Linked DNA regions of Homo sapiens. The protein of the gene in region 2 purifies or fractionates together with the protein of the main gene of each other region. This does not show direct contact. Each region holds a gene or a part of one and is shown on either strand. Other genes may lie near its edges.

Region 1 (3,600 bases), on a different chromosome or scaffold from region 2:
CGGTTACCAATTTCAAACAAGAAAAGTAAAAACCAAACAGAAAAGCTATTGCTTACTACCCTAACTTGGTACATTTCTGTGCTTGTTAATAACTAATAATTAACTTGTCCTCTCACAACCACCTTGAGATGCAGGGGTACAGGGTAAATTAGTACTGAGATAGTACCTAGCACTAAAATAGAATTATCTTTCTTGCACACTTTTTCTACAGAGGATGATAGTTTTTCCCTTCAAAGCACTGGTAATAGTCTTATTTTCTTCCTTCCATTTCTGCTTACTTGGTTACTGTCTTTATCAAACTATTAAAATAGTAAATACGACCAGATGCGGTGGCTCACACCTATAAACCAAGCACTTTGGGAGGCCCAGACAGGAGATCGCTTGAGCTCAGTGGGGCCCGGCTGCAGTGAGCCGTGATGGCACCACTGCACTCCCGCCTAGGTGGCCGAGAGAGACCCTGTCTCAAACAAAATAAAAAATAAAAATAATAAAATAGTAAATATACTGCAATTGTCTCCACCTCACTTCACCTGACAACACTATTTTGCTGTAATGGCCATAGAATCTTGATCTGACCACCGCCCATAGTAAGCAGGGAACTCAGCCTTCCAACATTAATTAAGAGCCCAACAATTTTAGGTTTCAGTTAGAAAGGACAGCTGCGCTTCAGGCTTGGTTCTTGCCAACTACTCAGCTATTTTGGATGAGCTGCACATTTTGTCTGTAACTTCCTCCATAAGTTTTTAATCAAGAGATCTTCCAGGAATGTAGGGCCTGCTTCACCTTCCACAGCAGCTGCGCAAAACATGCAAAACATACACTTCGATTTGTGTTTTCTGTTAGCTTTAGCTACTTCCCTCAGCCCAGACTCCCTTCAGTCTTTTGTTTTGAATAACAACCTACTGTGAAGCTTCTTAAACACTAGTTTTATTTAAAGCTTGTATTATCCTTTTCCTTTTTTTTTTTTTTTTTTTTGAGACGGCATCTCGCTCTGTTGCCCAGGCTGCAGTGTAGTGGTGCGATCTCTGGCTCACTACAGCCTCCACCTCCCAGGCTCAAGTGAATCTTCCTCCTCAGCCTCCCGAGTAGCTGGGACCACAGGGGCAGGCCAACAAGCCTGGCCTATTTTTGATTTTTTGTAGAGACGAGGTCTTGCTATGTTGCCCAGGATAGTCTGGAACTCTATTATAATCTTTGTCTTAATCTCATGGAGACGCCCCCGTGGTCACTGACTGGAGGAAGGAAATACACATTTTAAAGGTTTTAAATTTCCTATAGAAGGGTCTAGAACGTACCGCGCTATAACGAACATAGTAGTAAGACCACCGCCACACTCCTGAGGAAACAAGGTCACGCCCCTCTGCGGGCCGCTTGATCGGGTCTTTAATTAATCCCGCCGCGGCCTTCCCGCCTACCCCCGAGCGCGCACTTCCGGTCGCGAGGGCGCTCGGGAGCGCGCCCCGCGAGCCTCCACCAACCAGCGGCTCCGCCTGGCCAGACAGAGTGCGCGCGCGCACGTTGTGCGCAGGTTCGAATCTCCGCCGCTTCGCGGTTGCTTCTCAACGTCCGGGCCGCATCTCGGCGGCGGCGAGGGCTGAGCGCGGGAGCTGCCTCCGAGCCGGAGCCCCAGCCCTAGGCCCTGCGCGAGCTGCCCCGCCCTACCCCCTCCAGCGTCCTGTCGCCTCCTCGCCCGACTTCGGCCTGTCCCTCTCTCACGCGCTCAGTCCTCGCTCTTCGCCCCCCGCAGCTATCGGCACTCGGTCTCCCGCGCCTGGCGGGCTCCGCCCGAGCCTCTGGGCCCATGGCCAAGCGGCGTGCGGCCGAGCCGGTGACGTTCCACGTGCCTTGGAAGCGGCTCCTGCTTTGCGACTTCGCTGAGCAGCCGCCGCCACCGCCTCTCTGGATCCGGCCGCCCGGGGTCGCGCATGCTGGGCAGCTCCTCGGCGTCCCAGAGCAGCACCGAAAGCGCAAAATCGACGCAGGGACCATGGCAGAGCCCTCGGCTTCGCCCAGCAAGCGCCGTGACAGCGGGGACAACAGCGCCCCGAGCGGCCAGGAGCGTGAGGACCACGGTCTGGAGACAGGCGATCCGCCGCTGCCGCCGCCGCCCGTACTGCCGGGGCCGGGGGAGGAGCTCCCGGGCGCCCGGCTCCCGGGGGGCGGTGGCGACGACGGGGCGGGGCGCGCAGGACCCCCGCGGGGAGACTGGGGGGTCGCATCGCGCCAGGTAGGGGCTGGGGGCGGGTGGGCTGAGGGGCGAAGGGGCTTGCCTTTTCCCCACACACACAAAACGCCCCGGTTCCCACTCATGACTTGTGTAGGTTAAGACGCCTGAGGGGGTTGAAAGAAGGGGTCACCGCTCCGGGAGAGGACGCCGACCGCCAGAAGCACACCCCGAGAGTCCGATGGGCAGAAAGCACTGGGCTGGGCGAGGGGGAAACAGACCGTGGTCGGGAGCGATAGAAGTGGCCTTGCGGCGTCAGCGCCGCGCTCCGTAAAAGGGAAACGGGACCGTGGGTCGTGGCGGGCTGTGAGCATGGCGAGAACGCAGACCGTCAGGGCATAGGTTCAGCCCAAAGACAAACGACAGATAAAGGTGTAGAGGGCCTTCCTGGGTTTAACGATGATTAGTCTAGAATTCGGGATAGAGTTCTTTTTCTAGAGGGAGACCAGTGTGGTAGCCATTGATTAATTGAACGTCCTACCGGCTGGTACAGCTTCTGGAGAAAAGGATGGACCACCGTACCTTGGTCAAAGCTTTGTTTTAACTCATAGTGTTAAATCTGATCCTAGGCAAAAGTATCATTGAAAATTAATTTGGGGGCGGGGCGTGGTGTCTCACGCCTGGAATCCCAGGACTTTGGGAGGCCACGGCGGGTGGATCACCTGAGGTCGGGAGTTCGAGACCAGCCTGGCCAATAGGGTGAAACTCTGTCTCTATTAAAACACAAAAACTAGCTGGGTGTGGTGGTGTATGCCCGTAATCACAGCTACTCGGGAGGCTGAGGCACAAGAATCACTTTAACCTGGGAGATGGCGGTTGCAGTGAGCTGAGATTGGGCCAGTGCACTCCAGCCTGGGCCACAGAGTGAGACGCTGTCTCAAAAAAAAAGAAAAGAAAAGAAAGAAAAAAGAAAATTAATTTGGGCCTTAAGGCGTATATGAGAATCATTGGCGGGTTTTTATTCAAGACATGAGCCTGCCTCATCTCTGCATGTAAGAATCCTGAGAAGATCTAGGTATGCCTCGGTTTGCCTAGATCTCTGCTGCCCGGCCGCTAGCCGGTAAGAACACTTGAAACGTGACTAGTCCAAATGGAAATGTGCTCTAAGTTTAAAATATACACGAAATTTCGTGGATTTAATAAATGAAGATAAAATAGCTCAATTTTATATTGATTACACATGAAATAACTTGGCTATATTGAAGAAAATATATTAAAATTAATACCAGAAGTTTCTTTTACTTTTTAAATACAGCTACTAGAAAATTTTAAATTATGTTTTTGGAGCATTATATATTTATTGGACAGCTTTGGTCTAGACTTAGGAATTCATACTACTTTTTCACAATCCTGAATGGCAGGGGACTTGGGAGATG
Region 2 (3,848 bases):
GACATCTCAACTTCTTTGAAATAATTAAGATTGTTTGCATTATTTGTCTCTCTCAGAAATGAACACACCTGTGAGTACTGGATGCCTGTGAGCTTGCCATTACCTGCACTGCAAAGACACAGGGCGGTGGCCTCTGAGAAGCAGCTCCTTCCCCTTCACCTTGGCCTTGCCCTTCCTGCTCACGGTCCACCATGGAGACGCTGTCCCAGGACTCTCTGCTGGAATGTCAGATCTGTTTCAATTACTACAGCCCCCGGCGCAGGCCCAAGTTGCTGGACTGCAAGCACACCTGCTGTTCAGTGTGCCTGCAGCAGATGAGGACCAGCCAGAAGGATGTGCGGTGCCCCTGGTGCCGCGGTGTCACCAAGCTGCCTCCCGGCTTCTCCGTGTCGCAGCTCCCGGACGACCCGGAGGTCCTGGCTGTCATCGCCATTCCACACACTTCCGAACACACCCCGGTCTTCATCAAACTTCCCAGCAATGGGTGCTACATGCTGCCCCTGCCCATCTCCAAGGAGCGTGCGCTGCTGCCCGGAGACATGGGCTGCCGCCTGCTGCCCGGGAGCCAGCAGAAGTCCGTCACCGTGGTGACCATCCCTGCTGAACAGCAGCCTCTGCAAGGTGGGGCTCCCCAGGAGGCGGTGGAGGAGGAGCAGGACAGGCGGGGCGTGGTGAAAAGCTCCACCTGGTCGGGGGTGTGCACTGTCATCTTGGTGGCTTGCGTCTTGGTCTTCCTCCTCGGCATCGTGCTTCACAACATGTCTTGCATTTCTAAGCGCTTCACTGTGATATCCTGTGGCTGAAGAGGGCTGCAGGGAAGTCTCTTGTGGGTGCCAACTTAGGGGTTGAGCAGGTTGATGATGAGATCCCAGTGAGAAGATGGGGGGCAACACTGACCATTTGGTGCTGAGCGCTGGCCTCTGGGTTGCCTCTTGATTACCCCAAGACAGACACAAAGGGCAGAAGGTGCGGTCTCAACAAGATACCAGGTGAATTGTTCTGAGTGTTGATGGCAACAGCTTGGAAGATGATTGCATGCATCCTCATAATCATGTATTCAATGGACTGTAATTTATGATTTTTCAAAATCATGTTACAAGATAGACATATTCTACTTAGACGTTAAACTGTACAAGTGCGTACAATGTGACCTTCTCTAAATGCGGTAGATTCAAACAAAGATGCTCTGTAGACAAGTAGAATTAAACCTGCGAATCCGTGTAAAAATTCAGTGAAGACATGCACTGCTGGCTTCTTTATTTTTTTTTTCTTTTTATTGAAACCCAGTCTTCATTTAGTTGCTAAGGCTTTTAATACATTTTGAATGGCACCAAAACAAAATAAGTCAAAATGGACAGTCATTTTATTTGGAGGAAATATTTGAACAAGTGTCTCCAATGTGTTGTGTTTTGTCATGAACCTTCATTTTCTTCACTTGTAATTAGAGCTTGCTACGTGTTTATGGAACTGAAAGCTCAACAGGGGAGCAATAAACCGAGAAATCATGAGAAATGTCTAATCCCATGGGAAAACCTGTATGCCGATTTTCCTCAAGCCATCTCACAAAATAAGAATTTCAAATGTAAATATTGTGTATTTGTGTGTGTATGTGTGTGTGTCTAATTTGATTTACCTCAGGTGTTTGAGTCTTTGCTGAAGAATCCTGGGATGAAGACTTCATTGGGCATGAATGAGTCAAGTCTCTGAAGCGGTGGCCACTTCTTGGACATCTTGACCCAGCGAGTGGTCTCCTACACGTCACCTGCAACACTCGCTCCTCTTCTGTGTATTTAAGTCCTGCATTTTGTAAGAGGCAAATGGAGAGTAACAGAAGAGTGTCTTTTCTCCTGGTTTTGGAGTCTTGCACTGGCCATGAGTGTTGTGACTGATGGTCAACCCAGGCGGGCATTTTAATAAATGGCCTGTGATTCTTTTTTGAAAGATGCTCTTCCACAAGAGTTAAGCCAGTTAGAATTCCTGTTTCCTCTTGTTGATATGAGAGAAGATCTCCTGTATTTTAACACGTTTTTACCAAGAAAGGTGGCAAGGTAAACTAACAGCTCAAATTCCCAATATAAGTGGACCAGTTCCTCATAAACTGTCAAATGTTCTTAAATGTGTAATGATCTATAGATGCTCATGAAGAAAGATCTGCTACAAGTACGTGATAAATTCCTATCCCTGGGTGCATGTGCATTCAGAAATAGCTGTGAGCTTTACAGCTCTCATCTAACTTCTTTTATGGAATTCATGAAGCAAGTGGTATGTGACAAGGACTCCACTTATAAATATAACTGTTTTTATGTTCCACTGAATCCCTGAAAATGGTGAGGAGGGTGGGGGGAAGTGAAGGAAAGACAAGCAGGGCTAATTCCAAAAAGCAAGGCTAGAAAATAGCCCTGTGAGGTCAAGACAATTTAATTTATTTACATGCTGTCTGTTATCTTCAAGCAGCACAAAATATGCATATAAAAGTGATGGAATTAATGTGAAATAAAACAAAAATATAATGGCTAGAATACAAAGCTAATACTGCTAATTGGCATGAGAATTCAACATAAAATTGTGAGCTCTGATTTTTCAAATTGATCATAAAACCTTTAGGAAATGTATTTGAAAGCTCAAAATAGAAATTAGGTTAAAATGCCATTTTATTGTGTAAGCTCTTGGGCATTATACAACAAATAATCTAGGATTTATTTGGTATTAATAATTTAGGTGTCATATTAGCTGAATACTATCCTCTATTACATAACATAATATACTGTTGGGTTAGTGTCAATTTCTCAAACTCTCCCAGGCTGCCATAATGCATGTCTGACCTAATTTCTATTTCTCTTGGAGGAAAATACACACACACACACACCACAGAAGTGTTGCATTAAGAATGCTACATTTCGAATAGACTTTGCCCTTGCAATTTTAAGCTATGCCATATTCAGATTAATTTTGTGAGTGATATCTGCATATGTTTCTGTACAGTGTGAAATGACTGACCCTGTAGTATAGTACGTGATAGAGTTCTACTTGTTAAAGTAGGTTAGATATAGACACTAATGTGTGTGATGATAGTGTCCTGTGTTTCTTAGTGCAAATCTGTAGAGTAAAAATGTCCATAGAACTTTTACTTAAAAACAATCCCATGCTAGAGTTGCCATTAAGCAGTGCAAAATTAATCGGCTGTATGGTAGATTCTTGACCTTAAATTTAACAACAACAACCAAAATCAGATTTTTTTTGTGAGTCTTACTGACCTAAGAAACATTGTTTAAATTGTTTAAATGGATCTGCTTGCAGTTATTTGTGTACCTGTTTGTTGGGGTGTGCATTCTTGTGTATGTGTGTGTGTGTGTGTGTGTGTGTGTGTGTGTGTGTGAGAGAGAGAGAGAGAGAGAGAATCTCAGTCTCCCAGATAGAATTTTATAGGCTTAATGATGTTTTAATGTTGCTTGGCATCCCATTGCTCTGGCCTCTTCTGGCATTTACCAATGACCCTTAACAAACACATCTACCCATGTGACCAAAGTCCACTGACACAAGAGGCCAGGATTCATACTTGCACATTAATGAAAAGTCACAACTGGAAAGCACAGAAAGAGCTGAAAGCAGCCTCCGGTGGCTTCATTTTGTAGATGAGTCCGTTTTGTAATTCTGCAGAAAGGGGGGGATATGAACTTCGCACTGCAGTGTCTTCTTGCTCCATCCTAGGTCTGTCTATATCTCTATCTGGCTATGATCCTTTCTAGGGTTGATGAATACCCTTTACTGAGTCAACTATTGCTTTAAAGAATTTTTTTTGTAGGTTTATGTACTCATTTTAGTTAGCATCTACCTCTCTGGGAAAATGA

The links. Proteins that work in one complex are often made in the same cells at the same time.
Region 1: the proteins of RNF152 (region 2) and C9orf40 purify together in Homo sapiens (affinity purification with mass spectrometry; one large-scale study listed by BioGRID and IntAct). This does not show direct contact.

What each region holds. Positions count from the first base shown.
Region 1 is NC_000009.12:74,950,813-74,954,412, reverse strand, and holds the start of C9orf40 (uncharacterized protein C9orf40), read left to right. Parts: upstream 1-1,500; 5' UTR 1,501-1,801; coding exon 1,802-2,227; intron 2,228-3,600.
Region 2 is NC_000018.10:61,812,807-61,816,654, reverse strand, and holds part of RNF152 (E3 ubiquitin-protein ligase RNF152), read left to right. Parts: intron 1-56; 5' UTR 57-191; coding exon 192-803; 3' UTR 804-3,848. UniProt on the Homo sapiens protein: E3 ubiquitin-protein ligase that acts as a negative regulator of mTORC1 signaling by mediating ubiquitination of RagA/RRAGA and RHEB.